Regions from separate parts of the Homo sapiens genome. Here regions 2, 3 and 4 are each linked to region 1. The links come from fine-mapping of genetic effects on gene expression. A gene starts in region 1. Each other region holds a variant in brackets. All regions are shown on one strand. Distances are from middle to middle. Region 1 holds the start of KIAA1586. Region 2 overlaps RAB23 (RAB23, member RAS oncogene family). Region 3 overlaps ZNF451 (zinc finger protein 451). Region 4 overlaps ZNF451 (zinc finger protein 451).

What was found. PIP is the estimated chance that this variant, and not a neighbour inherited with it, causes the effect.
Region 2: its variant is the best candidate, but not a certain one, in a credible set for the expression of KIAA1586 in lymphoblastoid cells (GTEx, PIP 0.66).
Region 3: its variant is the best candidate, but not a certain one, in a credible set for the expression of KIAA1586 in blood mononuclear cells (TOPMed, PIP 0.70).
Region 4: its variant is the best candidate, but not a certain one, in a credible set for the expression of KIAA1586 in macrophages after interferon gamma (Alasoo 2018, PIP 0.73).

Annotation. Positions count from the first base shown.
Region 1 is chr6:57,042,817-57,050,951 of GRCh38, forward strand. KIAA1586 reads left to right here and starts at 3,877. Exons shown (of 4, transcript NM_020931.4): 1 at 3,877-3,960; 2 at 4,497-4,580; 3 at 7,958-8,038. The coding sequence starts at 3,940. RefSeq lists a silencer at 2,635-2,929 and enhancers at 3,559-3,648, 4,465-5,342.
Region 2 is chr6:57,196,005-57,204,139 of GRCh38, forward strand. RAB23 (RAB23, member RAS oncogene family) reads right to left here. Exons shown (of 7, transcript NM_016277.5): 4 at 446-602. Among named protein-coding and RNA genes, the nearest start is that of RAB23, 22 kb to the right of the region's middle. The variant G/C (reference allele first, on the strand shown) is at 4,641.
Region 3 is chr6:57,112,204-57,120,338 of GRCh38, forward strand. The region is part of intron 3 of ZNF451 (zinc finger protein 451); the gene reads left to right. It overlaps ZNF451-AS1 (ZNF451 regulatory antisense RNA 1), which reads right to left. Exons shown (of 4, transcript NR_110742.1): 3 at 3,253-3,360; 4 at 2,708-3,055. Among named protein-coding and RNA genes, the nearest start is that of ZNF451, 26 kb to the left of the region's middle. The variant C/A (reference allele first, on the strand shown) is at 4,687.
Region 4 is chr6:57,135,130-57,143,264 of GRCh38, forward strand. It overlaps ZNF451 (zinc finger protein 451), which reads left to right. Exons shown (of 15, transcript NM_001031623.3): 8 at 6,173-6,326; 9 at 6,819-6,966. All of the region lies in intron 2 of ZNF451-AS1 (ZNF451 regulatory antisense RNA 1), which reads right to left. Among named protein-coding and RNA genes, the nearest start is that of ZNF451-AS1, 33 kb to the right of the region's middle. The variant A/G (reference allele first, on the strand shown) is at 3,610.

The DNA.
Region 1 (8,135 bases):
AAGTACAAGAAGATTATATAACATCAAGCAGATTTAACCCAAAGAAGATTACCTCAAGGCACTTAAAATCAACTCTATGTTTAAGAGACATAGCTTAAAGTAATAAAAGCCATCTATGACAAACTCATAGCCAACATTATACTGAACAGGGAAAAGTTGAAAGCATTCCCCCCGAGAACTGGAATGAAACAAGGATGCCCACTTTCACCACTTCTGTTCAACATAGTACTGGAAGTCCTAGTCAGAGCAATCAGACAAGAGAAAGAAATAAAGGGCATCCAAACTGGTAAAGAGGAAGTCAAACTGTTGCTTTTGCTGATGATATGATCATATACCTAGAAAACCCTAAAGACCCATCCAAAAAGCTCCTGGAACTGGTAAATGAATTCAGTAAAGTTTCAGGATACAAAATTAATGTCCACAAATCAGTAGCTCTGCTATACACCAACAGCGACCAAGCTGAGAATCAAATCAAGAAATCAACCTCTTTTACAATACCTATAAAAATTAAATAAATAAATAAAATAAGGTACTTAAGAATACACCTAACCAAGGAGGTGAAGGACCTCTACAAGGAAAACTACGAAACACTGCTGAAAGAAATTATAGATGACACAAACAAATGGAAACACATCCCATGCTCATGGATAGAATCAATATTGTGAAAATGATCATACTGCCAAAAGCAATCTACAAACTCAATGCAATTCCCATCAAAATACTACCATCGTTTTTCACAGAACTAGGAAAAACAATCCTAAAATTCATAGGGAACCAAAGAAGAGCCCATATAGCCAAAGCAAGACTAAGCACAAACAAGAAATCTAGAGGCATCACATTACCCAACTTCAAACTATATACAAAGCCATAGTCATCAAAACAGCGTAGTGCTGGTATAAAAATAGGCACATAGACCAACAGAACAGAATAGAAACCCAGAAATAAAGCCAAATACTTGTAGCCAACTGATCTTCAGCAAAGCAAACAAAAACATAAAGTGGGGAAAGGACACCCTTTTCAACAAATGATGCTGGGATAATTGGTGACCCACATGTAGAAGAATTAAACTGGATCCTCATCTCTCACCTTATACAAAAATCAACTCAAGATGCATCGAAGACTTAAATCTAAGACCTGAAACCATAAAAATTGTACAAGATAACACCGGAAAAAACCTAGACATTGGCTTAGGCAAAGATTTCATGACCAAGAACCCAAAAGCAAATGCAACAGAAACAAAGATAGACAGGACTTAATTAAACTAAAAAGCTTCTGCACAGCAAAAGAAAAAATCAGCAGAGTTAACAGACAACCCACAGACTGGGAGAAAATCTTCACAATCTATACATCTGACAAAGGACTAATATCCAGAATCTACAAAGAACTCAAACAAATCAGCAAGAAAAAAAAAAACAACCCCATCAAAAAGTGGGCTTAGGACATGAATAGACAACTCTCAAAAGAAGATATGCAAATGGCCAACAAACATATGGAAAAAATGCTCAACACAGCTAATTATCAGGAAAATGTAAATCAAAACTACACTGCAAATCTACCTTACTCCTGCAAGAATGGCCATAATCAAAACATCAAAAAATAATAGACGTTGGCATGGATGTGGTGAAAAGAGAACACTTTTACACTGTTAGTGGAAATGTAAACTAGTACAACCATTATGGAAAACAGTGTGGATATTCCTTAAAGAACTAAAAGTAGATCTACCATTTGATCCAGCAATCTGACTACTAGGAAGAGGAATAACCACAGAAAAATAAGTCATTATACAAAAAAGATCCTTGCACATGCATATTTATAGGAGCATAATTCGTAATTGCAAAAATATAGAACCAGCCTAAATGCCCATCAATCAACAAGAGGATAAAGAAAATGGTGTATATACACATACATACACACACACACACACACACACACACAATGGAATAGTACTCAGCCATAAAAAGGAGCAAATACTGGTATTCACAGCAATCTGGATGGAACTGGAGACTATTATTCTAAGTGATGTAACTCAGGAATGGAAAACCAAATGTTGTATGTTCTCACTGATAAGTGGAAGCTAAGCTATGAGGACACAAAGGCATAAGAATGACACATAGGACTTCAGGGACTCGGGAAAGGGTGGGAGGGGGTGAGGGATTAAAGACATCGGGTACAGGATACACTGCTTGGGTTATGGGTGCACCAAAATCTCAGAAACCACCACTAAAGAACTTATGCATGTAACCAAACACCACCTGCTTCCTAAAAACCTATTGAAATAAAAAATACATTTTTATTTTTAAAAAATGTCCATACTACCCATACTACCCAAAACAATCTACAGATTGAATCCAATCCCCATCAAAATACCAATGACATTCTTCACAGAAGCAGAATAAACAATTCTAAAATTTATGTGGAACCACAAAAGACCGAGAATAATAGCAAAAGCTAACCTGAGCAAAAAGAACAAAACTGGAGGAATCACATTACATGACTTCAAATTCTACTACAGAGCTATAGTAACCAAAACAGCATGGTACTGGTATAAAAACAGACACACAGACAAATGGAACAGAATACAGTACCCAGAAATAAATCCACACACTTAGGGCATGGCTACACGGAGGAAGGGGTTTCTGAGCACAATACTCTGTGTGTGTTAACTTTGTAGTTTTGAAGTTAACAAGACCCTGGGCTCGCTATGCAGTCCGTATGTGATGTTGAACCCTTTACACACAGCACTAGACGGTTTTGAACCTATCAAAACACTGCTTCACTTAAATTTCACCAACTCCTTAAAATCCTAGTAAGTCTATGTTTTCCTTTGTTCCTATGTTCTCCTTTTCTCCCACTTTGTGGGTTGTCTGTTTACTCTGCTGATTATTTTTTTTGCTGTGCAGAAGCTTTTTAGTTTAATTAAGTTCAGTCTATTTATCTTTGTTTCTGTTGCATTTGCTTTTGGGTTCTTCATCGCGAAGTCTTTGCCTAAGCCAATGTCTAGAAGGTATTTTTCCGGTGTTATCTTGAGCAATTTTTATGACTTCGGGTCTTAGATTTAAGTCTTTGATGCATCTTGAGTTGATTTTTGTATAAGGTGAGAGATGAGGATCCAGTTTAATTCTTCTACATGTGGGTCACCAATTATCCCAGCACCATTTGTTGAAAAGGGTGTCCTTTCCCCACTTTATGTTTTTGTTTGCTTTGCTGAAGATCAGTTGGCTAATCAGATACCTCATAGCTCCTTTGTTGTATAATTTTGTGCATTGTAGATCAGGGTCAAAATGATAAAGGTGATTTTCTGGGACTACAGACTTGTCAATAACAGGTGGTCCTAGGCTGATAGAGGTAAACAAATAAAAGCTTTAAAAGAATATTCTCTGTTAAAATTTGCTTTCATAAATTTCATGTTTAAAATCATTTGTGAATAAATGTTAAAATAAAAAGGTGAGCCACGATTTTGGTAAGGCAATTTCTGAGCAAATCACACACAATTTTTTTTCATTCCCATTGATCTATTACATAGACGAATATTTGGTTGTGAAAAAGTGAGAGAAAGAACTCGGCTATTTTATTATAGTAGAGCAACACCGAAGGGAGACGACTTCGCTGTAGCTCAGAGTCTTTTTCCATTCTTCACCCACGCGCGGGGCAGTCGCGCGGCGCGGTCGCGCGGCGGGTAGGAACTACCATCCCAGCATCCTCTGCGGCGCGGGGAAGGAAGCCCGGGAATGAGAGAAAGAGGCTCCGGGGAGATAGCGGACCAGTGAGGGCTGCCCCTCTTTTGAAGCGGTTTTCGTCTCTTTCCGCCAGTGGCCTCCCAGCTCACGCAGGGGCGGGTCCCGGTAGCGCGAGGCGGTGCAGGGCGGGAAGGGGAGTGGTGGCGGCTGCGGCAGTAGGGACAGCAGGAGCAGTGGTGCTGTCAGCGCGGCCGTCGGAGACATGGGAGACCCGGGGTCGGAAGTGAGTAGTCGAGTGAGGGTCCTGGCGTTCTCAGAGGCGAACCGCGAAGGGTTTGTGTTTTCTGCGGTCTGAGGCCTGGTGCTCCGTCGCAGCCTCGGGGCGATACCTCTTCAGTGTCTTGGGCCGAGCCCAGCTCTGGGGCCTGGTGCGTGTCTGAGCGAGGAACCCGCAGCAACAATGGCCGCCCGGCCCCCCGCACGGGCCCTGGCGTTCGTTGTGGCCGCGGCTGGGCCAGTGGGAGCGACGTTTTAAGGCAGGATTGCCCTTCGGTGTTGAGCTTGCGTTCCTCCTGGAGTAGATAAGGGGAATTGTGAGAGGCTGGTAACTAACGCGTTTTCAGCGTTGGGTCCCTGCAGCTCCGCACACTCTGTGGCAAGAGCCAGAGCTCGAGTTCCGTTCCTAGTCGGGTTTCCGTGAAATTGTGCTCAGTTCGTTTTCCTCAAGAGCTCTCTGTCTTTAATTGTTCCTTTCGGAAACGCTCTCTTCCTACACGAATGTGGCTGAACAGATAAGCATGTTTTGGCTTGTTTTTATAGATAATAGAATCTGTCCCTCCAGCTGGCCCTGAGGCATCTGAGTCAACAACGGATGAAAATGAAGACGACATTCAGTTTGTCAGTGTAAGTAGCAATGATGATTGGGGTTTTCCCAGAGTAAAAGACTATGGTGGGCCATTATGTAATGTTACCTCACCTGGTCATTTAATGTTCATGAGTGTCTAATACATACTAGACACTGGAGCATGGCGCAGGATTGGGAAATTTACCAAAAGAGCTATCTGAGCCACCCCCGTAGCCATCACAAAGAGCACGTCCTAAAGAACGTGCTGTACACTTAATCTCGCCCCCTGCCTTTCATTTAAACTTAAGATAAAAACGCTGGTGTCTAAAACGCTGTTTTGAAATGGAGCAAGAGTAACTTCTAAAGGCGACACGGAGGAAGGAGCTGCTAATGATGAGCAAGGACGTAGAAAACAGGAAGGGTTGTGAGAGCCCAGAATCTTAGCGTTATGGTGCTTCTAACATGAAGGCAAATAGCTTGAAGATTTCTCTAACCTCTGAGATCATCATGTTACGGCATAGTACAGTTGATGCTCATAATGAAGAATCCTACATCACTGGGAACATGCTCTATTTTTCTGAGTTTGTTCCCTTTGAGACAGTAGTTTTCAAGCCTTAGTAAGTATAAACAGGCAGATTCCTGGGCCCCACTGCAGACCTACCGAATCAGAATTTCCAGGCGGGGGCCTAGGAATCTTCATTTTCAGACAAGTGCAGGGACATAAGGATTTCTGAGCACACTTTGGACAGAATGGGTTTCTAAAGCAGAAGGGAGTGTTTTATGATATATTTTGGGGTGATTTTCATCCATAATTGTTGGAGTTTTAGAAAGGCTTTGCGTAAAGTGGTATCTCAGCTCGCCAGGCAGAAAACAGTTCTGTCCCCAACTCGTCTTTTGGAATGCCGTAGTTAGTTGCAGTTTGGTATTCAGGCTGTAGAATTTTTCTTTAATGGAGTGTCTGTCTAATGTTTCTGTGTTTTTTAGTTTTTGTAGGTTTAGGGCGACTTTGTAAGTCACTTGTTTTTTAAATTAAAATTTCCTCCCTAAACATTGTTTTGTTAACATCGTTGTTTGTTTTTCGTGTTTTGTGTATAAGTTCTTTACCCTGTCACTTTCTGGACATATTTCCCAATTAATAGTGTGTGTATATTTTGTTCCTGACATTTGGAACCTTTCTAAATATTGATGATACCAAGGGAGATTGTATGCTGACTCTGCCTTCACTGTTGTTATGGAGTAAGCAACGTAACTTGAAATCAAAGAGCAATGGTTTCTGTTTTTGTAACGAGAAACATTTGGGAAGAGGAGTTCATGGGTCTTTAGGAAAAATAATTTTGGTTTCCTCTTAACTGGTATAAAAACAGGAATGATTGGGACAGATGATCTTGATGAGTTTTTTGTGCATCTGTATGTAGAAGTGACACACGTCTGATTGATGATCCATGTGCCATTGAGAAAGTATGTAGAAGTGACATACGTCTGATTCATGATCCATGTGCCGTTGAGAAACACAGATGGGATGTACAAAATTAAGTTTGGAAAAGTAAATAGGTATAGATTTGTGTAATATCCTGAGGAATAAATCATTATATTTTAAATTGTGAGTTAATATATAGGCTGTGTTTAGCTGAGGTTTAAAACTCTTACTTTAAATTTTATTTTAAATATAAAGATCCTTCTACATCTTTTCATACAATATTTTGTATATCCAGCGTGATAGAACCCTTTATATTTAACCCTGTTCAAAATAGAAGATCAAAGGTTTGACAGCTCTTATATGGAGAAGTGAATTACATGCTGTCAGTGTAATTGCAGTACCAGAAAGAATGTAGTAAAACATCCCTGTTGCATTTCAGTGGTGCCACATAAAAGACAATGATAACTTAATTCCACTTTGAAATACACTCAGAGACAACTTTCCTTTGTAACCCCATCCTATACTGGGCTCTACCAGGATATGCTTATTTCTCTGTGTTTTTTATAGTACCATCCAGTAAAGATGCAATGCTGCTGGGTATAGTTCTCTGCTTGTGGGTTCTTCAGATTAAAAGAAAAAAAAGTTTGTTACTTCTTGATATATTCTGGTTTGGATTCCTTAGTCTTTTCATATAAATGTTGATTATCTAGCCTTCATTCTGCGTTGTGGCACAGAATCCTCTTTGTGTTCTGTCATGTACCTAGCCTCCAAAATAAACAATATGCTGAAAGAAAGGAATGATAAAAGATTTGGGGATACAAAAAGAGTCCTTATCTTAATGTAAATTTTATTGAAATATAGTACCTATACAGGGAAGGTTACTTCCTCCTTGCCATCACTATTTTTGTACCACATTACCATTTGTCTAGATTGATTATCTTGTTTGTATTCTTCCCACATGCTCTCTTATGTGGTTAACCTTCTTGAAACAGCTCTAATAATGTTCCCATCTTGATGTTATTTATTGATTCCTTTGCCTACAGAATAAAATCTAGGATTTTGACTAGGGCATTTATGGCCTGGTCTATGATGAGGGTAGTGTATATGTAAAGAAAGGATCAAGAAGACTCAGAGTTTGATGTTTGGCTGTACAGTGATGTGGAGGATAAAGCAGGGTTATCAAAGAACTTCGAGATTACTGATAATCATTTCAGTTAAAAAAAATTGTACTATGAAATCTGTTATCTTTTTTTTTTAATGAGGTAGGGCCAGGGGGTGGGTTTTTCACTATGTTGCCCAGGCTGGACTTGAATTCCTGGGCTCAAGTGATCCTCCTGCCTCAGCCTCCTGAGCAGCTGAGACTGGCACTGTGCCTAACTGAAATCTGTATCTTTTTAAATCAATATCTGTGCTATTTCCCATTTTGAAAGGAATCTACATGGCTTTATTCCTCTATATAGATTTAGGCTCTTTGGGTTTTGTCATTATTATGTTTTTTTTTTTTTCCTTTTTACTAGCAGGAACAGTATTACGTATTCATGTACTCTGACTCTTTTCCCATGCCTCTTTTTTTTTTTTAGACAGTGTCTTGCTCTAAATTTTATCTAGGCTAGAGTGTAATGGCATAATTATAGCTCACTGTAGCCCCAACTTCCTGGGCTCCAGTGATCCTCTCACCTCAGCCTCCCAAGTAGCTGGGATTACAGGTGTGAGCCACCGTACCCATCTGATTTTTTTTTTTTGTAGAGTTGGTGTCTCACTATGTTGCCCAGGCTGATCTTGAACTTCTGGGCTCAAGTGATCCTCCTGTCTTGGCCTCCCAGTGTGCTAGGATTACAGGTGTGAGCCACTGCTCCCAGCCCCTTTGCCCGTTTTGTTTCTAATTATTCTGTGCCACTTGCAAGATTTTCTCGAGAATCTTTCCCAATTCCAACTAAAAAAATCTCCCACTGATTGTTAAATTTAAGTTTAATTGGAATGATTGTTCATGACTTGTAAATTTGCCCACTTCCTTTTTAGGAAGGACCATCGAGACCTGTTCTTGAATACATCGATCTGGTCTGTGGTGATGATGAAAACCCTAGCGCCTATTATAGTGATGTAAGCACATTATATTTGTGTTTGTTCAGTTTTCTTATTAAGTGCAATAGTGTGTTGGTGGTAGCTTGAACTGGATCATAAGAACTAATTGTTGGCC
Region 2 (8,135 bases), 150 kb after region 1:
TCACAAATTTGAGCATAAGAGTTCTGAATATACAAAACAATATGAATCTGAACCCTTAATTAAAATTCATCAACATAGGATAGTTACTTATTCTGGGTATTACAAAATCTAGGGATGCTTTTCTTAACATTCTTACCATATTAAGGTTTGACTTAACATGAAGAATTAGATTTCTTGTGCAAAGACCTGAGATTAGAATTCTAAAAGAGCCTTCAAATTTTAATCCTTTAATTTTATCTACTTAGGAATCAATGAATTTTTTAACCCAAACCAATCACATAGAATAGCTCACAGAAATTTTAGGTAAATTAAAATATTTAAGTCATTAAAGCCTTCAAAATGAAAGTATAGAATTTTTCCTAGAACCTGTAAAACTATGCAAAAATTAAGATGTCTTAACTTTATAGAATTACTGTCCCTCCTTCCCCAAAAGTAGCCATCTTACTTCTTTATACAAGAATCATCCAGAAGATCAATCTTGTTTTGCACAAGTACAGTTGGTATATCTCCCACTTCGGCTACTACTTTCTCTCTCCAACTGGAAACTGCTTCAAAAGATTCCCTATCTGTGGTAGAGAACACGAGCACACAAGCCTGGGCTCCTGTAAGTTCACAATCAATCAATCAATCAATCAAGGTATTTACATTAACATATTACATTTACATTAAGAAAACAATCTCATGAAGAATGGGGGCAACTTTTATCCATTCAAAACAACTTTTATGTAAATAAATGTTGAACTCATCTTTGTACTACTCTTCTTTACTTTTCAACATATAAACTCTATTTATGTTGAATTCATCTTTGCACTACTCTTCTTTACTTTTCAACATATAAATTCTATTTTCATTTTTACCAAAAACAGTGGTTCTCAAATGTGTTCAACTGTCAAAGTACCTCAAAAGCATACACATTCTTTTTGGAATACCATAAAATACTGATTTAATTCCATTATAAAAGCTAGAGAGAATGGTAAACTAAAATTACAGGCTGTTGCCAAATTCTTCTTGTTAATTTGCTTCTTAATTTCTTTCAGCGTAGATTTAAGAAAAATGTCATTTGCTTAATTTCTTTCAGCGCAGATTTAAGAAAAATTTATGAGAAAAAAATCATAATTTGTTCATTCTATTCACTTTTTAAATAAATTGTATTATTTTATTTCAGTAGAATACCAGTGATCCTAAGGAACATAATTTGAAAGCCAATGCCAAGAGTATATATATATATAATAGAGGGGTTGGGGGAAACTTAGTTTTACCCTGTTTAACTGCATAATTTTACCCACCCATATTGTATCCATTGACAATATTTTAACCATCAACTGTCATTTTAGGCTGATAATATCAAAGACTAAAATAAGCAGAAACCTCTTAGAAGAAGCAGTTTTATAAATTATTAGCTATTGATTCAGGTAGCATGGTGATAAAAGCAGGCATGTAAGCAACAAGAGAAAATCATCCTGGGGGTCAAGAGGATTTCCTGAAATCAAGGCATGTTTTCTTACCATTACTCCTTCCTTACACATCCCTCTGGTATAAGAGTTTTCTACTAAGACTCAAGATATGTCTGGGCTATCTAAGACACTCTAGAGCCAAAACTAGTCTGTATATCTATATATCACTGGGGGAATACTGTAGAAAGCAAAAGACCACAGAAAGAAAACAGCAGTTTGCTATTACTGTAAAAACAGAAGGTTCATTTGGAAAATCTTCCCTACCCTAAAAACAGGTTTTTTGTTTTCTGGTTTTCTTGAGACAAGGTCTCACTCTGTTGCCCAAACTGGAGTGCAGTGGCATGATCATGGCTCGCTGCAGCCTCGACCTCCTGGACTCAATCAATCCTCCCACCTCAGCCTCCTGAGTAACTGGGACTTACAGGAGGAGCCTGCCATCATGCACAGCTAATTCTTTGTTTTTTTGTTTTGTTTTGTTTTGTTTTTGTTTGTTTGTTTTGTAGAGATGGGTCTCCCAATGTTGCCCAGGCTGGTCTCAAACTCCTGGGCTCCAGCAATCTGCCTGCCTCAGCCTCCCAAAGTGCTGGGATTACAGGTGTGAGTGACTGTGCCTGGCCTAAAAACAGGTTTTAATCCAAATAATAAATGAATAATGCAAAATACAGAAAGAGAGAGACAAAGACACCCTGAGACCTTCTCAGAATTTAAGGGAAAATAAAACTGAAGAGATCACATTAGTATACCGATAAATAAACTTATATTTACTTGAGCTGTAATATTTACCTCAACTACAAATAAAAAAAATTATGTAATCATATTTTAAGAAACTGTGGATCATGAGGTCAGGAGATCGAGACCATCCTGGCTAACACGGTGAAACCCCGTCTCTACTAAAAATACAAAAAATTAGCTGGGTGTGGTGGCGGGTGCCTGTAGTCCCAGCTACTTGGGAGGCTGAGGCAGGAGAATGGCATGAACCCGGGAGGTGGAGCTTGCAGTGAGCCGAGATCGCGCCACTGCAAGACCAGCCTGGGCAACATGGCAAAACCCCATCTCTACAAAAAATACAAAAATCAGCCAGGCGTGGTGGCACACACCTGTAGTCCCAGCTACTCAGGTGACTGAGGTGGGAGGATTGCTTGAGCCTGGAAGGTTGAGGCTGCAGTGAGCTGTGATTGTGCCACCGCACTCCAGCATGGGCAAAAGGGTGAGACTCTGTCTAAAAAAAAAAAAAAAATTTGTTCTTTATCATAAAACTCAATGAATTACCTTTAAGCCTACAGCTTTATGTCCAGCTGTCATTTAAATTTGAGGGCACAATAGGGTATTTCCAAGTGTTCAAGGTCTCAGACACTTAACCAAAAAAACCTCTTAGAGGAAGCATATATGATGGAAAAAAAACCCCAAACAGATAATGCCAGAGATACGGGCAGTAAGAATGATTAAGAAAAGCTCAACATTATTTAAAAAATCAAAGACCAAAAGAAAGTATGTCCATAACAACCCCAAGATTATTTAGCAGGGGACAGAATGGGTACAGACCAGAGAAATGTGGGAATGTGCCAAAGTGCTTGTGTGAAGAAAGGGAAGATGTTTACATAATCAGGGAGGTAAATAAACAAACCCTGCAGCAGAGGCCTGTGGCTGCATGCATGTCCCCTCAACCGGGCTTCAGCGCAGCTGTGGAGAACAGTTCCTGTGCCAGTTGCTCCTGCCTATGCTGCAGGGGGCTCTGCTGTTCTGCTGGGGGCTGTTCTGATGCATCCCCCAAGGGGGAAGTGATGCCTCTGGGTGGCGGGGGGGTGGAATGAACACCTCAGCCTCCCTTTGGTGGGCTCCTGAGGCCTCTCTTCATGGTTCCTCAGGGAGACTGAGCCCCAGTGGCCCACAGTGATACTTAGAACGCTTTACTGGTTTTTCTCCCTTCCTTGCCTCATTCTCCCTAGTCTTTCACTCTACTTCCTGGGATCATGTCCCAAATAAACGAGCCCCACCCATGTGGCGCAGTGGGAAGGCACACAGAGGCTTAAACTAAGACAGTAAATGCCTTAAGTTAAAGGCAATCACCTTAAGAATAAGAGAATGTATGACTATTAAACCACAGGAGAAAAATGGATTTCTGCAGTATAAAGAACAAAATGAAAAAACAAGAACTGCAGGAAATAAAAAATCTGAAATAAGATCGCAAAAATAAGTCCTAAGAAGATAAATTACAATCTATAGAAAGAATGGTACACAAATCTCCAAAGCAGGACGGTTCACCTGATACCAAGCCTTTATATCAAATGCTGCACCACCTTGTCTGATTTAACCTAAAAATATTACTAAAATGGAAAAAAAATCAACTGGATTACTTTTTATGGATTACTTTTATGGTTATAATAATTCTGACAAATGTTGGACAACCACTTGTTTCCATTTCCCCTAACTGAATATCATCTTCCATCTAGACAGATAAAATACTTTGTCAAACTGTGATTCATCATGGTTCTTTTATGTTTGGAAAAATCCTAATGACCGGAAAGCCCTTTCTAATATTTAGTTTAAAAAGCTCAAAAGATGACCCCTTACCCTCCACCCTTTTTTAAAAAAAAACTTTGACTGAGGTACCAATAAAGCATGTAACAAATACAAGATTCCAAGATTTATGAGACAGATCATTATTTGCAGAATTTAGAAAGCAAATGGCTGATCCTGCTGCACAACTCTGAACTCCCTCAAGCACTTCAAGAATTTTTTTTTTTTTTTTTAATATGAGATGGGGGTTGGAAAGGAAAAGGATCTGTAAAGAATGTCTTGGCCGGGTGCGGTGGCTCATGCCTGTAATCCCAGCACTTTGGGAGGCTGAGGTGGGCGGATCACGAGGTCAGGAGTTCAAAACAAGCCTGGCCAACATAGTGAAACCTTGTCTCTACTAAAAATACAAAAATTAGCTGGGTGTGGTGGTGGGCACCTGTAGTCCCAGCTACTTGGGAGGCTGAGGCAGGAGAATCACTTGAACCCTGGAGGAGGAGGTTGCAATGAGCTGAGACCATGCCATCGCACTCCAGCTTGGGTGACAGAGTGAGACTCTGTCTCAAAAAAAAAAAAAAAAAAAAAAGAATTTTTTTAGAGGAAGTACTGTACTCCAAACCCTTTCTCCTGCAAAAAGGTGCAGTAGGATGGATGAGGGTGCTATCACCACCT[G/C]CTTCATCTCAAACCTTAAAGAATGGATGCTGACAAGACCAATTTAGGAAGCTGTTACGTATTTCCAGCAACTGGCGGACATTAGGGACTAGTGATGCCTTGATTCAAGCCTGAGAAAAATGCAATGGGTGAGAGTGAGAGTGAAAAATCAAAACCAGCAGACAAAAAGCAGAGAGCTATATTGGGAAGGAACTGTGCCTCTCCCAATGGCAGGGCAAAGAATGCACATGAATTTCATAGGGGCAGAGATGAACCACATCTAAGAGATACCAGTAATGGGGCTCTGGACATGCTAAACTAAAATATGGCACCTTGACGTACTGAATATTTTAAGCTGAAGGAATCTGAGAAAACAGCAGAAGCAGGAGAGTCACTTTGATCTCCCCTAGCCCCTTCTCCTCTGAAGCAGATCCTAAAATTCAGGAAGGATTTTCTCTCTCTCTTTTTTTTTTTTTTTGAGATGGAGTCTTGCTCTGTCGCCCAGGCTGGAGTGCAGTGGCATGATCTTGGCTCACGGCAGCCTCTGCCTCCCGGATTCAAGCAATTCTCCTGCCTCAGCCTGAGTAGCTGAGATTACAGGCGCCCACCACCATGCCCAACTAATTTTTCTATACTTTTAGCAGAGATGGGGTTTTGCCATGTTGGCCAGGCTGGTCTTGAACTCCTGACCTCAGGTGATCCGCCCATCTTGGCCTCCCAAAGGAAGGATTTTCTGACCCTCACCTGAAGGAGGTCATAAGCCCCTCAGGTGAGAGGTGACCTCCATATACCCAGAGGAAAGGAGAATCCTCATTTCTGAAGAGAGAAGGATACCAAAAGGAATCTGAATGAACCTCTGCTGATGAATCTTGCTAAGTTTCCTCCAGTTTACTGCTCTTAGCTCATATTTGTCCTATCACATTCTTCAACAACTTTGCACTCTTCCTCAAACCTGGTATAAAAACGTTCAGGTTTAACTGTTTATTTGGGTTTTCATTTCCTTATGAAGGTTTCTTTGTCACATAAAACTTATATTAAATAAATTCATAAGTTTTTCTCTTGTTAATCTGTCTTTTGTTAGAGACCCAATCAAGGACCAAAAAGAGTAGAAGGAAAAAGATATTTTTCCTCTCCTACAAACCAAAGTCACAGTAAAAAACTGTAACAAAAATCTATTTCATGTCGTCTGTATCTTTCTGTACTAACTAAAATCACTGGTTCCTACTGCCTGGAGTCAACTTTCTAAAAAGCTTTAGAGAAATCACTTGGGATCCCAGAGGCTTCCTAATCTGTGCTCTGTTGTAACCTATTTACAAGAAGGTCTTGTTTCAACATCTCTCACTATACAATTAAGCCAGCATTCCAAGTCCATAATAATACCTTTGAGCAATGGCTTTGATATAATGGGTCTTTTAAATGAATTATAATAAAATTGTTCTTTTTAAAATTTTAATTTGTTGATTTTTATGCATCATTAATAACACATTTCTAGGATTTAAATCAGCAAGTCATAACTATATATGGCATAGTGTTTCTACCACTACATTTGTATCTTAATTCATTCTTTCTAGCCCTTACCTTCTCTTCTTACTTTTATTTCTATTTAATTTCATCACTATCTAAATCTGTACTAGCAGCAGATATTGTCTGATTGCCTAGGTGGCATCTCTCCCTAAAAACACCTTTCCCCCACTGTATAGTAGCCATATGGTTTAGGTAGACTAAACCTATTCTCTGCTGGAGGTGGGAGTTGTGGTGGTGGCAAGGAGCACAATGTGATCCAAGTCAATTAATCACATTCCTCTCATTATTGCAATCAGGTCAAGGGTGGTCTAATCAGAGAAAAGCTCAGGACATCTGAACCACTGCTGTGGGAAGTAACCCTCTCTCCCCAAGGATGTAAACAAAGCATGTGGCTGTCATTGCTCCTGGTGATAATCTTGCAACCCAAAAGGAAATCAACATGAGGAGGTACCGGTACCACACAGGGAAGAGACAAAGCCAGGAGAATCAGTAAGGTTATAGGCTGAACAAACAACTAAAAGGGATGCTATTTCCAGACTTTTCTATCAAATCAGTAAGTCTCTGTAGTTTTAAGACAGTACGAAATTCCTTTTATTTGGCAGCAACCAAAAGCATTCTAATGGAACCCCAAAGAGGTTTCCCAAAGGGAAAACATAAAATAATGTTCAATATACTGTTTTTCAATTTTATGTATAATTGCTGTTTTTTCTTTAATTCATATTGTATTGTGATAAATGTTTACTTTTACCATTTAGAAAAAGAAGACGCTGAAACTGAGGACCTATCTCAGTATCTCACCCTCTTTGCCATTTTAATACAGTCAGCTAAAAAGTTAAATTACTAAGATAGGCTGTTTTTTTTTTTTTTTTTTTTTTTTGAGACAGAGTCTTGCTCTGTCACCCAGGCTGGAGTACAGTGGCATGATCTCGGCTCACTGCAGCCTCTGCCTCCTGGGTTCAAGCTATTCTCATGCCTCAGCCTCCCCAGTACTGAGATTACAGGTGTGCGCCACCACACCTGGCTAATTTTTGTATTTTTAGTAGAGACGTGGTTTCACCATATTGGCCAGGCTGGTCTCGAACTCCTGACCTCAGGTGACCTGCCGGCCGCAGCCTCCCAAAGTGCTGGGATTACAGGCGTGAGCCACTGTGCCCAACCAGTTTTGCCTTTTTAAATTATAGAAACATAATGTCAAATATATTCTCTAAAAATAACCCTATTGGTTAAAAAGTAATAACTGCCACATCAAACTGTCAAAAGCTTAGAAAGGATTAGGCCAGCCTATCTGTTTCCTCAAAAAAAAGAACAGACATTTCATGCAGAGAATTTAGAAGACCAAGTTCACTAGATAAAAATAAAATAATGAAAATCTCAAGTAATCCTACTTCTTTCTGGTGTTTCCACATAGGTTTTATGTTTATTTTTTTCCTGAGTGTGTGGGGAAGGTAGTGGTAATAACCCCATTAAAAAATACAAATAACTTTTACTCAAGAATAAAACTGTACATTTAGGACCTGTTAATCAATACTGTCAAGGCTGATGAAATTCATAATTTGATACAAATATCATCTACTTGAATGACAGAGGGGTAGAAAAAAAATACCATCTACTCCAAGAACGGCTTGGGGTAGTAAAAACATAATTCTCAACCTTAGACCATGATACAGGTGCTCAGGATCCAAACTGGTAGCCACAGAGAATAACCAAAGCTACTGTGGACGGGAAGCCTTAAAGTACACAGTAAATAGAGTGGTAAGTAGTGGTGGCAAGAAACCAAAATATGTTTTAGAGCAGGCAGTGGAAGTCAAGTTTCCTTGGTACCAATTTAGAAAGGCAACTTCTTTGGTCATTTGTATGTTAGTACAATCATGAAACCTTAGTTGTCATTATTACAATAAATCCTACATTTTCAAAAGCGAAAAAAATAAGCTATATATTCAAAAGTTACATGAATTCACCCAATTTCTCAAGTATATCGATTTTATATAACTG
Region 3 (8,135 bases), 69 kb after region 1:
GTGGTGCAAACTTCAGACCAAACTATGAATTGAAGCTTTAGGATGGGCAATAATAAGCGGACTTTGAAATTGGGTTTTTATGAAGTAATCCATTTGTTGCAGGAATTCTGTTCAAACCAAATGCGCTAGTCAGATACCGTGATGATGTGCAAAGTTAATTCTTTTGCAGTTGGTTGTTCCTTTGAGCTTTCTTTGAACTTGGAGTCCCTTACATATAAGATAGAGGTGATGAAAGAAATAGTCTCCAGTTGGTACTCCTCTGGATCATCAGTGCCAGCTGATGTTCAGGGAGATATTATGACTGTAAATAAACCTGCCTTGGATTGTTTTGTGTATATCCCCTCACCTTATTCTTTACCTTCTTCCCTCCTACAAATTGCATCTTTTTCTATTACTGGCTTTTTCAGTAGGCAGAAAGTGCCTATGATGAGTGAGATAGGAAACTGGGTTGTTGTGATCACTTCTCTGGGTAGTAACTGTTCTTGCAGAGTGCTTTCTTCCTAGGTTATATCACCGTGTGTGGTATATGGAGCAAAATTGTTCCATTTCACAGAGAGGTCTAGTGACTTCATGTTCATAATATATTCATATTTCTATTAAAGTAATTTTGTAGAAAATATAAAATGGAAGCTTTTTGGTTCATCAAGAACTAAAGTGCTTTCTGAAATTAGTAATAATGATTTACAAATATAAGTCATTTCTTTATCATTAAAAAGCCACAAAGTAGTACAATGCTATGAGCTATTATAAAATAATTTCTTCTATGAAGCCCAGCTTTTTGTTCCTTTTTCTTTTTTTAAAGCCTTTATTTTAGGTTCAGGGGTACATTTACAGGTTTGTTTTATAGGTAAACTTGTATCACGGGGGTTTGGGGTACAGATTATTTTGTCACCCAGGTACTAAGCGTGGTAACCGATTGTTATTTTTCTGGTGCTCTCCCTCCTCCCTCATTCAGGCCCAATGTCTGCTGTTCCCCTATTTGTGCCCATTGGTTCTCATTATTTAGCTCCCACTTATAAGTGAGAACATGCAGTATTTGGTTTTCTGTTCCTGTGTTAGTTCACTAAGCCCTCCAGCTCCATCCATGTTCCTGCAGAGGACATGATGTCATTCTTTTTTTTTTTTTGGCCGTATAGTAGTCCGTCGTGTATATGTACTACATTTTCTTTACCTAGTCCTGCTTTTTAATATTGTTTTCTAGAAATTGCTTTGCAAAAGTAAAATCACTCCATTAATTCCGCATTCCCTTTGAGTTAATATTTGCAAACATTTAAAGTAACTGATTTAGCTAGTTATCACAATAAGTTACTCAGAGGTTCAACTTTTCGATGAGTGATGTATGAAGAATAAAGTGAAAGATCTGCCTGAATTTAATATTTGTAAAAAATATACTCATGGGTCTTCTGAGAAAAAAAAATTTTTTTTTTTTTTTTTTTGAGATGGAGTCTCGCTCTGTCACCCAGGCTGGAGTGCAGTGGTGCAATCTCGGCTCACTGCAAGCTCCACCTCCCGGGTTCACGCCATTCTCCTGCCACAGCCTCCCGAGTAGCTGGGACTACAGGCACCCATCACCACACCCGGCTGATTTTTTGTATTTTTAGTAGAGATGGGGTTTCACCATGTTAGCCAGGATGCTCTCGATCTCCTGACCTCGTGATCTGCCCACCTCGGCCTCCCAAAGTGCTGGGATTACAGGCGTGATCACGCCACCGCGCCCAGCCGAAAAATTTTTTATAAAACAGTTTAGAGCCAGTTCTGTCTGGCATTTAGCTTCCTAAACCATACTACATTTTCAGGATCGAGAGTGAATTGTTCAAGAAATAGGCATTTGTAGATGAATTTTAACAGAAAGTTCATGTATGAAGTCATATACATTCATCTGAAGTTACTTAAGTAGAAATTTAGCTTCTACTAAAAATTTATTTTGGTTTTTAATTAGCTTCCTTTTGAGCACATTTGTTAAACTTACCTAAGAGAACTTATCTTTGTGATTGGAAAAACTAAGAATCCTGCTTTCTATATTTACATTCCAAAGAAGAATAGAGAAAGGTCAGGTCTAAGTGAGCTGAATAAGCATATATTTTTAAGTTTCAACTTTTAATTTGACTAAGTGTACTTTCATCAGTATTTTAAATACACTTTAAAATACAAAATCAGACATGCTTTTAGGAAAACCATATATGTAAAAAAATATATACAAATTTGTGTTTTAGCTAAATGTTTTTTGCTTTAAGTGATAACGGTGTTTGGCTTGAAATTTGTGTAAAAATATTTTCCCAATAGCCATTAAGCTTGTTGACCTGAAAGTGACTTTCCTTAATTCTTGATTAATATGTTTCTGTTGAGTTTGGAAAATAATGTAACCCAATCATTATACATATAGGGACAAAAATCTGAGAAAAGTTACATACAATTTACTAATAGATTATGTTCCTTCTAGATGCAGCATTTCTGTCTATATTTTTGTAGGATATATATTAAACATATTTTTATAAGGCAAAATTAGTGATTTAAACCAAGTCCATTATGTTCCCAAACAAAAGACTGAGATCCTTAACATTTTTGTCTTTGTATAGTCTTCTTCATTAATAATTAAAATTAGTTAACAATTTTATTACATATGCTGATTGTAGAAAAATTAGAAAATAAATGTAAAAAAGAAAAAACCCTCCAGACAGAAATAACCACTATTTAACATTTTGATTTATATAGCTTTCTAGATTTTATTCATATATATATTTACAGGATCATTTTCACTTAAAAACTGCAAGTGTTGCTTGGCACAGTGGCTCATGCCTGTAATCCTAGCACTTTGGGAGGCCTAGATGGGAGGATTGCTTGAGGCCAGGAGTTCAAGTCCAGCTTGGGCAATACTGCAAGACTCTGTCTTCACAAAAATAAGAAAAACTTGCTGGGAGTGTTGGTACATGCCTGTAGGCCCAGCTACTCAGGAGGCCGAAGTGAGAGGATTGCTTAAAAGTGAGCTCAGGAGGTTGAGGCTTCAGTGAGCTGTGGTCACACCATTGCACTCTAGCCTGGGTAACAAAGTGAGATCCTGTCAGAAAAAAAAAGTATCTAATTGATTGATCTATTAGTACTAATAGGGAAGAGATGTTGAAATGTAAGTTTAACATTATCATTTCGTTGATTATGGGATTTTGTGTCAGGTTGTCATTTCTAGACTTGGACTTTTTGCTGTAACTCTACCAGGATACATTAAAAGATAAACGTTGTTTAGAAGTGTTGCTTTACCTGTGTATGCTTAACTTTCATGGAGATGTTTCGTCAGGTGTAACCAGTATCCTCAATATGGCTATCATTTCTAGGATACAACCGAAATTTGCTCTGTGCATGTTTTACCTAAAATTTTAGATAAAAATGTAAAGAAGTATATTTGAGAATGTAAGAATTTCATAGTGACTGAACCAGAATCTGCCTTTAGGCTTCTTCTGGCTTTACATCCTCCTTAATTCTATGCAATTCTGGGTATGGAAGAAAACTAATGCAGAAATTGATCTGAAGTATTGGCAAACAGAAGACCTCCAATTTTCCCAATATTTTTCCTAAGGCTTTCCTGTGCTTCTCCCCAACACTGATTGGCTAGCATTGATAGCTTATTCACTGTCGGTATGGACCCTTTAATATTATGTGTTTTATTTAAAGACATTAGTCCAGGGTGACCATAGGAAATACTTCAAGGAGGATAACCCTGAAGATCCTATAGCTGCTAATACTCAAAATGAAACTTAAAAAAAATAATGATTTTTGCCATGGATCAGAGCCAATTCAATTCTAGCTTGAGAAGTGAATTCAGGTCATATCTGAAAGCCTTACCTTTGTTAGAAATTAGGTCCAAAGACCTAAGTGATAATTCAAGTTATGGGCTTTGTGGGAGATGGCAAATCCAGCCTAAGGAAAGGAGTTCTGGAATTTTACAATTTCACATTAAATTACACGTCAGTATGTGGCATTAGGGGAATGGTAGAAATTCTCAGTGCTAAGAATTGAGTGGCCCCTTTAACCAGCTACCTTGACCCCCAAAGCCAAGATTTGTAATGGAAAAATATTGTATGGGCAGGGTGCTGTGGCTTACGCCACAGCACTTTGGAAGGCTGAGGCTGGCGGATCACTCGAGGTCAGGAGTTTGAGACCAGCCTGGCCAACATGGCGAAACCCCATCTCTACTAAAAATACAAAAATTAGCCGGGATGGTGACACACACTTGTAGCCCCAGCTACTCGGGAGACTGAGGCAGGAGAATCGCTTGAATCCAGGAGGCAAAGGTTGCAGTGAGCCGAGATCACACCACTGTACTCCAGCCTGGGTGACAGAGCAAGACTCTGTCTAGAAAAAAAGAAAAAGAAAAATATCATATGACTAATAGTCTGCCTCATATACCTAATCTTTTCCCAGTTTAAAACATCTTTCTTTAATATACCCGTTTTCTCAGTTTTAAAGTTTCTCAGTTCAAAATTGGCAAAGATTTCAGAGTTGAAGCCCTTGCTTTCTCTACTACCATTCCTTTTCCTCTACTCCTAGCAGATTTCTCCCAAATCTGTTTTCAGTATTGGTAGCCAGAGTTCCTTTTTTTCTTCCTTTTTAAGAAGAAAATAGAACCAGGCATGGTTGCATGTACCTATAGGCCCAGCTACTCTGTAGGATGAGGTGGGAGGATTGCTTGAGCCC[C/A]GGAGTTTGAGTCCAGCCAGAGGACCTTATCTCTAAAGGAAAACAAAACAAAAAAAAAAAAAATGAAGAAACTTTCTCCTCACAGGGAAGAAGTAAGCCCAAAGTCAATTCTAAGATGCCTTTTGTTTTCAGCATTAGGGCTTGTGGGTCTTTTCAGCCCTTCAGTGTTGTGAAAGAGAATAAACAGATCAGCAGAATTAGTAGAGAATAACAGAGGCAATTTATTGAGACATAACCATATACAAGTTGAGTGTCCTTTATCTGAAATGCTTGGAATCAGAAGTGTTTGGGTTTTAGATATTTTTGGATTTTGGAATATTTGTGTTACAGCTGTTGGTTGAGCATCCCTGATGTGAAAATCTGAAATCTGAAATGCTCCAAGGAATGTTTCCTTTGAGCTTCATACGGGCACTCAAAAAGTTTTGGATTTTAGAGCATTTTTTTTTTTTCCAGATTTTTGGATTAGGGAAGCTCAACTTGTAGTTAAATAAAATATGTAGGCTACTAATAGCTAAATATAAGAAAAACAATTGTAGTAAATAATGACAATCCCAACAGGTTTTAAGGCCTCCAAGATGGTAGGCTAGTGATTAATTTTAGAGTGAAGTTGAAGAGATCTAAATTAATGTTTAAATGGCTAAACAACTTATCTTCCTAGTGTCGTGAGTATGTTTTGATAGCACGTGAGTATAATTTGAAGGGAGTGAAGTTTTAAGAATATACTTATGTGACTAGTGAATTACTGAAATTTTTTCCTACTGAATATATAATTGCTGTGTTTCTGAATTTAATTTTCATTGACCTTTGCATCAAGAGTATATGCAAAGGTCAGTGAAAAGTATTGCATCAGATTCATTTAGTATGCTTTAAAGTAAACATTAAGAAGAATAAATATTATGTAAAGCTTTCCTGAATGACTATAACTTCAAAAGTAACTTAAAATGGTTTTATTATGGCCTAGAACAAAGTAAAATGATAGTGGAAACATCAATTCAAGGATAGTTCTTCCCGAGTTAGGATTACCTAAATTTATCCAAAACATGGCCTTCTTCCTGTCCCTAGAATATTCACATTGTTGTTGTGACACAGGAATTTCGGAGAGATGAAAAAAATCCCTTGATTTCCTATCCTTACACCCACATGGCTGCATAAGTGACTTAATGTTTGATTAGGAAATATTTTGTTTGGTGTAAGGGTAGCAACTTGAAATATCTTGATAAATTTTCTGCAGCTTCTAGTCTCCAGACAAATTTAGGCATAAGATATACTTTCTGTTTAGGAATGTCAGTCCTTCTCTCAACCTTTAGGAGAATTGTCATTACTGTCTTTTTTTTTTTGGTAGGTAAACAGTAATTTATACCTTGTCCACTTTGCCTGTATGTTAATGTGACCTTGGTTTACCAGGACTTTCAAGCATGACTTTTGTTAAAGTTTAAAACCTAGAAAGTATTATCTCTGTTGAGAAAGTTAACACACTCTATACCTGTGTTTAAATTTTACCAGCATCTTTAAATTAAAGTTTATATTTGTGATCTATGCTAAATTTCCTTCTCGAGGTAGTATCTACATTTTGTAGTTTTTGCAAGGAATAAATTTAATTTGACCTTTCTCCCCCTTTTTTTAGAAGAGAGTCTTGCTTTGTTGTCCCCCAGGCTGGATCATAGCTCTTTGGAGCCTCGATCTCCTGGGCTCAAGCAATCCTCCTGCCTCAGCCTCCTGAGTAGCTAAGACTATAGGCACATGCCACCACACCCAGCTAAATTTTTAATTTTTTTGTAGAGACGAGGCCTTGCACTGTTAGCTGGGCTGGTCTCCAACTCCTGGGCTCAAGTGAACCTCCTGCCTCAGCTCCCAAAGTGCTGGGATTACAAGTGTAAGCTACTACGCTCGACCACTAATTTGCTTTTAAGGCAGATTTGCCTGTACTAAGGGATCAAAGTTTAGAAAAATAACTTCCTGTGACTGCCATTTCTGAGGACCTGCATTGCCCTGTAACTTGTAAAAGGATATTTTGAAGTTAGTAGAATGTCACCTACTACCTGGGTGCAAGGCTGTATGCTGTCCAAGTAGTCAGAAAGTGAGCTGGGGTTACTTCTATCTAAAGTGGTCCTATAAACAGTCCCTACTGCAAAGGTGTAGCCTCATACTGAAAATACCAATTTGGCCTTTTTATATATGCTTACTTCAGTATAACTTCTTTCTACCTCTAGAAAGAAGTCATACCTGCTGTTTGACTTGGCCAGTGCACCACTATCCCACTTTAGATAAAAATTGGGTTGTACATATGTGACTGATTTGCCCAAAGAGTGATATTTTATTTGTAACCAATCATTCTGGTAGAAAAAGCCAGGGAAGGCCGGGGCGTGGTGGTGCACGCCTGTAATCCCAGCACTTTGGGAGGCCAAGGCGGGCAGATCACCTTAGGTCAGGAGTTCGAGACCAGCCTGGCCAACATGGAGAAACCCCATCTTTACTAAAAATACAAAAATTAGGTGGGTGGTGGCACGCGCCTGCAATCTCAGCTACTCGGGGGCTGAGGCAGGAGAATCATTTGAACCTGGGAGGCAGAGGTTGCAGTGAGCCGAGATCGCGCCACTGCACTCCAGCCTGGGTGACAGAGCAAGACTCCGTCTCAAAAGAAAAAAGAAGCCAGGGAAGATCTATTATTTTTCTTTTCTTAAAATAGACTTTTTAAAAAGAGCAGTTTTAGGTACACCATAAAATTGAGCAGAAAGTACAGTCAGACAGTGTCCACTTACCTCCTCCCCTCCCACCCCTCCATGCAAAACCTCCACTATCCTCATTGGAAACTACAGGGTACATTTGTTTCAATCTGTGAACCTCCATTAACATATTTTGTGCTTCTAGTCTCTAGAAAAATGTAGGCATAAGATATACTTTCTATTTCTTTCTATTTAGGAATGTCAGCCCTTCTTTCAACCTTGTAGCAGGAGAATTGTCATTACTTTTTTTTTTTTTGGTAGGTAAACAGTGATTTATAAGTTGTCCACTTTGCCTGTATGTTAATGTGAGCTTGGTTTACATTAGGGTTCATAGTTTACATTAGGGTTCACACTTGGTGTTATACATTCTCTAGGCTTTGACAAATGTGTAATGACATGTATCTGTCATTGTAGTATTACTGAAAATAGTTTGACTGCCCTAAAAATCTTGTGTGCCCTGCCAGTTTATCCCTCCTCCTTGACTATCCTGTCAGTCACTGATCTTACTACAGTTACCGTAGTTTTGCCTTTTCCAGAATGTGATATGTGGCCATACAGTATGCAGCCTTTTCAGATTGGCTTCTTTCACTTAGTAATCAGGTGCTTTTAAGGTTCCTCCATGTCTTTTCACAGCTTGATAGCTCAATTCTTTTTAGCATTGAATAATGTTCTATTGTCTGAATATACCAAAGTTTATCCATTCACCGATTGAAGGACATCTTGGTT
Region 4 (8,135 bases), 92 kb after region 1:
GTTCAAGATGCTCTGAGTGAGTCACTTGATGAGAACCAGAACCCTGTTCTTAAGTCCACTGTCTTACACTGCTTGTTGAAATGTTGGCGCCATATAGTAAATGACAAGTTATTAATGCTAGTTTTTGAGGAATATAACTAGTATTTAAAAAGCTATGTCATATAATTCTAAGTAAGTGTTAAATCTTAAGAGACATGAGTTGATTCATGGATATGCACATCCATGTAATACAGAACTCTAATGGGTTTTTACCATATTTGATAGTAGATAACTTTAATGACTTACTAACATTGCAGAAGTAATGTATGTTCATTATGAAAAATTTTTAAAATATTAACAAAAAGACAAGAAGTCATCCTTAATCTCACAGAGATAAGGACTGGGATTAAGATTTTGATATATGTGTTTTTAGTATTACTCCATATATAGATAAATGTTTTTACATAAGATAAGATATCTAAATTGTTCTGTGATTTAAAGCAGTGTGTTGCAAACATAAAAGCTTAAATATTCATCGAATCAATGCATACATTTCTACATTTTAAATCATTGAATTGTTTTCTTCTGTATGAATATAGTATTAATTTAATAAATTTCCCATTGGATGTATTGTTTGTTTTCTATTATTAAAAACTATGCCATATTAAATATTCTGTTAACTAAAAACCTTTGAGAATATCCATATTTGGATATTTGAGTAAATATCAAATTGGATTTACCGAATAAATATTAGATTTTGAAATAGTAAAACATTTATTTAGTTAATGTTTTCAGAATTTGCTTCTATCTAGAGCTATACCTGGAAAGTAACATGGAGAATAGCTTGGATTCTGTGTAGGTTCACAGCAGAGAATTAAAGCTTGCATTCTAAGTATATCTAATTGAATTCTGCAGTCCTCCCCATCTCTGTCCTGGCACTAGAGAACATTCCCAGAACAGATGTGCATCTTGAAGCAGATTTTATTTTACACTGACTCATTAGTTTTTGGAGAGCCTGCGTCTTGTTCAACATTGACTAGGCACTGTAGTAGGGTAGTCTTGGGGATTCCTAACAAAAATAAATAGTAACATGATCATAAAGACACAGGATTTTAAGCTTGATATTGGCAAGAAGAAACTATTATAGAACAGTGACATGATGAAAATAACACATTATTCTTTTAAAGTTAGAAGGACTTCTAATTCTATAGCCCAATTCCTTCCTTTTTTTTAGAGACCCTGAAGAGACTGAGTGGCATTAGAATGGCAGTATTGTTCAGAATGGATTCAAAGATGTGGACAAAGAGACCAGTTTAGATGACTTTTACAGTAATTTAGCTCTGAGATGAGAGAATTGTTTGACTTAGGTAATGGCATTCAGAATGAAGACCTTAAAGTGAAACCAAAAGACATATTGAAGAAAGAAATGATAGGGTTATCCATTTCCATGACAAATGGAAGATTTGGGGAAGGAAGGGAAAAAGGGTGAAAGAGAACTGCATTCCGTACTTTAGGGTTTGCAGTAGGTTACTGATGTTCTGCATTTTCCAGAATTAGAGTTCTTTCAGGACATGTTTCCCTATTCATATACTGAGTGTTTTCTCTACTATAATGAGTATATATGTCTGTTTTCTTTAGTAAATTTGAGTAGGTAGTTTAAAATGAATTTTTTCACTTATTTTTTTCCCCAAATTTCATTAATTTGTTTTTTCTTTTTTCTCGGAATCACACATTCCATGCTGTTTTGCACTCCTTTTTGCCGTCTCTCTAGGAAGTAGATTTATGACCTTCAGCGTTCTGAAAAGCAGTATGGTAACATAGAAAGGGCAAAGGCTTTGGTATCAGACAGACCTGGGTTCCACTGTTACTATTATTTGCTTCATATTCTTAACAGGTTACTGAATCTGTGAGTTTAGTTTCTTCATCCCTAAAATGGTATCGTTATGCTTATGTACGAGATTGTTAAGAGAAAATGTAATACTCTATTTCAGGCCTGACCTGTAACCTTCAATGATTGCTTATTCCTTGACATTTGTGTCACCACAAGGACTCTAAAGAAAACTAGTATGCATGGGGGGTTGTAATTGCCTCTTTTAAATCAACAAGAAGAGGTCACTAGAAGATTGTATAAGCCTCGCTGTTTTTTATAGGTATGAATTCTGTTTTGTAAAGAGGCAGTCCCCAATGGAAAAAAGTCAAATTATTCACAATTTGCATTGTTTTCCTTGCTCCCCTCCCCCATTTTCTTTCATCTTCAATTTCTTCACTCTAGACTAGGCCTTCTCAAACTTAAATGTACACACATATCACTTGGAAATTTTGTTAAAATGCAGATTCTGACTCAAGATGTCTCAGGTGGAGCCTTAGATTCATATTTCTAACAAGCTTTTAGGTGATGCCATTGCTGTCGTTCCTTGAGTCATACTTTGAGTAGCAAGTTTCTAGTGGCTTTTGACACCTAAACCCATCCAATGGCTATTACATCACCAGATAGCACCCTGCTTTTCTCCCTGTTGTGTGATAGTGGTGGTCGATATACTGTGAGCTCCTTTGTACCTCAGTGTCATTTGTGAGTCTGTTGAAGCTACCACTGGTTATTCTGTTTCTAGGGCTACTGTATCATCTAAGGTGACTTTTCTCCTTGCCTAACCCATCTTCCTCATCCCTAGGCAACCACTAAGCTACTTTGTGTCTCCATGGATTTATCTATTGTGGATATTTTATATAAAAGGAATCACACAATATACAGCCTTTGTGACTAGATTGTTTCACTTCCCATAATGTGTTTCAAGGCTTATTCATATGGTAGCATGTATCAGTACTTCATTTCTTTTCATTGCCAAATAATATTTCATTGTAAGGACATATGCCGCATTGTATTTAACAGTTCATCAGTTGATGGACATTTGGGTTGTTTCTACTTTTTGGCTGTTACGAACAATGCTTCTATAAACCAACATCTAAGTTTTGTGTAAAAATACGTTTTAATTCCTCTAACGAGTTAAATTGCTAGGTCATATGGTACCTTTTTAATTTTTTTGAAGAAGTGCCAAACTGCTGTCTAGTGCACTGCACCATTTTACTTTCCCGCCAGCAATGTTTGTGGGTTTCAGTTTTTAGCCAGTCTAGTGGGTGTGAAATGGTATTTTGGTTCTGCCTTTTTTTTTTTTTTAAGACGGAGCCTCGCTGTCTTGTGCAGGCTGGAGTGCAGTGGTGCAGTTTCGGCTCACTGCAACCTCTGCCTCCCGGGTTCAAACGATTCTTCTGCCTCAGCCTCCTGGGTAGCTGGGATTACAGGCGCCTGCCACCACACCCGGCTAATTTTTTGTATTTTTAGTAGAGACGGCGTTTCACCACGTTGGCCAGGCTGGTCTCGAGCTCCTGACCTTGTGATCTGTCCGCTTCAGCCTCCCAAAGTGCTGGGATTACAGGCATGAGCCATCATGCCCAGCCCTACTTTTTTTATTGTACAAATTTGTATGGTGTCTTTTAATGTAACCAGAAATATGGTAAAAAGGAATTGAGCACTTTAACTTATCAGATATCTTATTTCCCATTCCTTTTCCCAGTTTGTAGAATGTATTTGCAGCTATGCCATATATATATATATATATATATATATATATATAT[A/G]TATGTGTGTGTGTGTGTGTGTGTGTGTGTGTGTGTGTATATATATATATAAAATTTTTTTTTTTTTTTTGAGAGAGAGGTGGTCTCAAATTCCTGGGCAAAGCAGTCCTCCCACCTCAGCCTCCTTAAGTGCTGGGATTACAGGTGTGAGCCACTGCTCCTGGCCAAGTATGCCATATTTTTGTAATAAGTATATTCTAATAAAATTTTATGTAGAATCACATTTTGGTTCTGTTGAGCAAATCATTTAAACAACTTTATGTGAGTTCATTTATAACTCACAATTAAACTAAAAATGATTTAATGAGTTTAGGGTTCTTCAAGTAGGAGAAATATGTATAAATTGGTGGTTACTAAATGCCTTTATTGCTCTTATCATTTAGAATCTTCAAATTGGAATGAAAATGTCCTCCTCGGTGTTATTTCTTCTGTGTGGCACTCATCAAATTAAAACAGGAGGGGAGTGTGGTGGGGAGGGAGTAGTGAAAGCAGCATATAATTCATAACCAAGATTGGAAAGCTGGGTTTAAATGGAAGTTTGTCTTTTCTATGGAGGGGTACAACTTGGGAGGAGGGGTAAGTTGGTTGACTTATCAGAACTTCAATTTTCTCATTTCTAAACAATGAAAATGGTACCTCATGGGATTATTATGAGGATTAAGTAGGTAAACATATTTAGAACCTCAGTGTGGTTCCTGACATGTGCTCGGTATAAATAAAAATTTTTTATCTCTCTTCTGGTTGCATCTCATAAGCACTACACAAACTATACTGATGGTTCTAGTGTTAATGATAGTAAATATGAGGCACAATACAATGTTTGAGGCTATTACTCTAAAGACCATTAACAAGAAGTTAAATTATATTTATAACAAGCACACACAAATATACATACACTTATAAATACACACTTTTTAAAATTTCCTATTTTAAGGTAGAGGAGGCTCTTAACAAGGTTTAGAAACTTAGATGCTAGAAAAGACATACTTATTTGACTGTGTCAAATTTAAAAAGTGACCATAGGCCGAGCACAGTGGCTTATGCCTGTAATCTCAGCACTTTGGGAGGCCAAGGCAAGAGAATTGCTAGAGTCCAGGAGTTAGAGACGAGCTTGGGCAACATGGAAAGACCTTGCCTTTACAAAAAATAAAAAAATTAGCCGGGTGTATTGGTGTATGCCTGTGGTCCCAGCTACTTGGGAGGCTGGGATAGGAGGATTGCTTGAGCCCAGGATGTCAAGGGTACTAGTGGGCCAGCCTGGGTGACAGAGTGAGCTCGTGTCTCAAAAATAAATAAAGAAGACTATAAACAAAATAGATATTTGAAAAAATATTGCAAAATGGAAAATGAGGCAGAGAATTAATTTCAGTAACAAAGGACTGATACAAACTGACCAGAAGGAGAAAAAACAAAACAATTGAGAAATAAAGCTAAATAATATGAATAAAAAATTCACATAAGAACACATCTGGGTAGCCAAAAAATGTATGAATAAATGCTCAAACTCACTTATAGATAGGAAATGCAAATTAAAGTAGCAATGAAGGCCAGGCACGGTGGCTCATGCCTGTAATCCTAGCACTTTGGAAGGCCAAGGCGGGTGGATCACTTGAACCCAGAAGTTCGAGACCAGCCTGGGCAACGTGGGGAAACCCTGTCTCTACCAAAAATACAAAAATTTGCCTGACAAAAATGAAAAAAATCTGTAATATATATTACTGCCAGGCTCATTCAGTACTAGGGGATATGTGAATTGGTAGAGCCTTTTTGAAAACCAGTCATACAGTGTCTTTTAATATTCAAATATATATACCCATTAGCCCTGTAGGGCCACTCTTGAGAATAAGAAAAAAGCACCTACCAGTAAGGATATATATTCAAGGATGTTTACAAGATCATTATTTCTAGTGGGAAAAAAAAACCCAAAACTTAAAAAAAGAAAAAAACTGAAAATAAATGTTGACTGAGTTGAATAGATTGACACCATGGCGTAGTTTGCAACCATTAAGAAGCATTAATTAGAGATATACCAGCTGATTTTTAGGGATTTCCTTTAGGTACTATGGAATGAGAAAACTAATAGGCAGAAGAGCCTATAAAATAATATTTGATAAAACAATGACATTCCCCCTTATTTCTATGTGTCTTTGTAACTGAGTAAGCATGGATAAATTTGTGGAAGAATAATAATGCAGGGTAGAGTGAATAAAGCAAAACATTAGGAAAAGTGTATGTGGTGTGATCACATTTATGCATTTATATATTACATGTGAATGTGTATGTAAAAATGAAAACTATATAGAAAGCAAATGTTCTTCTATATTTGTTACTACAACAGATGGCCATAATTTGGTTTTGAGGAAAAAAAACTAAAAATTTGACATTTGGGACCTCGGTTATGATAAAAGTTCCATAATTCACACTCAGGGAAGAACATCTTTCATGTTAAAAATTGATACAGGATATTGCGAATAAACAACAAATAGGAAATTTTGAAAGTTTTTTTCAAGAACTTGAGTGTTTATTTTAGTTTTCCATAATACAGCTTTGTCTTATATTTTAGGAAGCCACAGATGATGGACATAACAACAACCTTCTTCCTCAGATTATTCAGTGTTTTGCATGTCCAAATTGCTTCCTTCTTTTTAGCAGAAAGGAGGAGTGTTCAAAGCATATGTCTGGAAAGAATCATTTCCATCAGAGTTTCAAACTGGGTGGTATGTTAATACTCTCTTCTGCTGAAAATTAAACTACTTGAATCTTTGCTGATTTATCATACTTCTCAGATCATTCTTGAGATTACATATCCTCATCTTAGTTTTAGAACTATGAAAGTAAAAGATTATCTCAATTCCTACTTAAAAACAAAGATTCTTAATATTTATTTGTACGTATGAGTAAGGCTTACTAACTTTGAAGACTGAAGAAATCCTGGGAAGCAAATATTTATTCAGGATAATGTTATGTTATATCATGATATCTTGGAAGTTTTCTGTTTCTCGGCATTTAAGACTCAAATTTTAATTTGAGTATAAGTAAGGCATTCTTTGTATTTAAGGCTAGAAAGTGGCTTCCCTTAGATTTTTATTGCCAAAATAACTGTCTTCTTTTACTTACTCCAACTAATGTTGAGAAGGGCTGAGGGGAGGAAGGTTGGGTTACTCTGTACTCAAATAACTTTGCAAATTATAGTTTATTTTGTCTTTCAGATAACAAAGGAATTGCACATCCAATATCTTTCCCATCTTTTGCAAAGAAACTTTTGATCTCTCTGTGCAAAGATGTTCCCTTTCAAGTTAAGTGTGTGGCCTGCCACAAGACACTGCGTTCCCACATGGAGCTCACTGCCCATTTCAGGTTTGTATTGGTCTGGAGCTGTAAAGGAATACGGATGAGTGTTTGCCAGTGAGAAGATTCAACAAATACATTTTCTTTCCATGTTTCTCTCCTTTTAAAATGAGAATATACAGTTGCCTGGAAATTAGCCAAATTTAACATAGTGAGAGAAGTTAGAGTTGTGGAAAACGTGGATATATTGATATTCTGCAAGTGTAAAGCAAGCTAACAGTTCTAAGTTTTGTGTATGTTCTTCTGTGTGTGTTCTGTAAGTATGAGTAGGAGAGGAAAGGGTTAAAGTAGAACCTTGGCTTTAAGTCAACCAGAATGGAAAGTATCATATACATTTGAAAGATTAAATCTCAATGAAAGGCCAAATTTATCAAGTAACCAAGAAAGAGTCCAGTATGATTTGTGATTGCCATAGTATCTGTGAGATTTATCTATATTGTTTAGTACATTGTTCCTTCTTATTGGTAAGTAGTATTGTGTGAATATAGCACAATTTGTTGATCCATTCCCTTGTTGATAGATAGTTGGGTTGTTTACAATTTATAGCTTTTATGAATAAAGCTGCTTTGAATACTTTGCACAGGTCTTTTCATGGTCATATGTTTTCATTTCTCTTGGATGGACATTGAAAAGTGGAATTGTTGGTTCAGAAGTAGGTTTATATTTAACTTTATGAGAACCTACTAAATATCCAAAGTTGGTCGTATTAGTTTCATTCCTACAGGTAAGGTATGAAAGTTCTAGTTACTCTTCACCCTTGCTAACATTTGATATTGCCACTCTTTTTCATTTTAGCTATTCTTGTGTCTCATTTTAGTTTATTATGTGCATTTTCTTGATAAACAATGATGTTGGGCACTTTCTTGTGTTTATGGGCTATTTGTTTATCTTTGTGAAATCTCTGTTCAAGTCTTTTGCCAGTCTTCAAAATTGGATTGTTTGCCTTCTTAATAGTGAGTTGGGGTTCTTTATATATTCTAGATACAAATCTTTTGTCAGATTCGTATCTAGAATACAGGAATTTCTAGAATATACAAATATTTATGAGTATATTTTCCTGTGATTTTGCATATTCATATTTTTAATTATACCTTTTGATGAACAGAAGCTTTTCTTTGCATTAGGTGTATAATTTGTTGATTATTTTCTTCTTTTATGGTTATGCTTTCTGTGTCCTG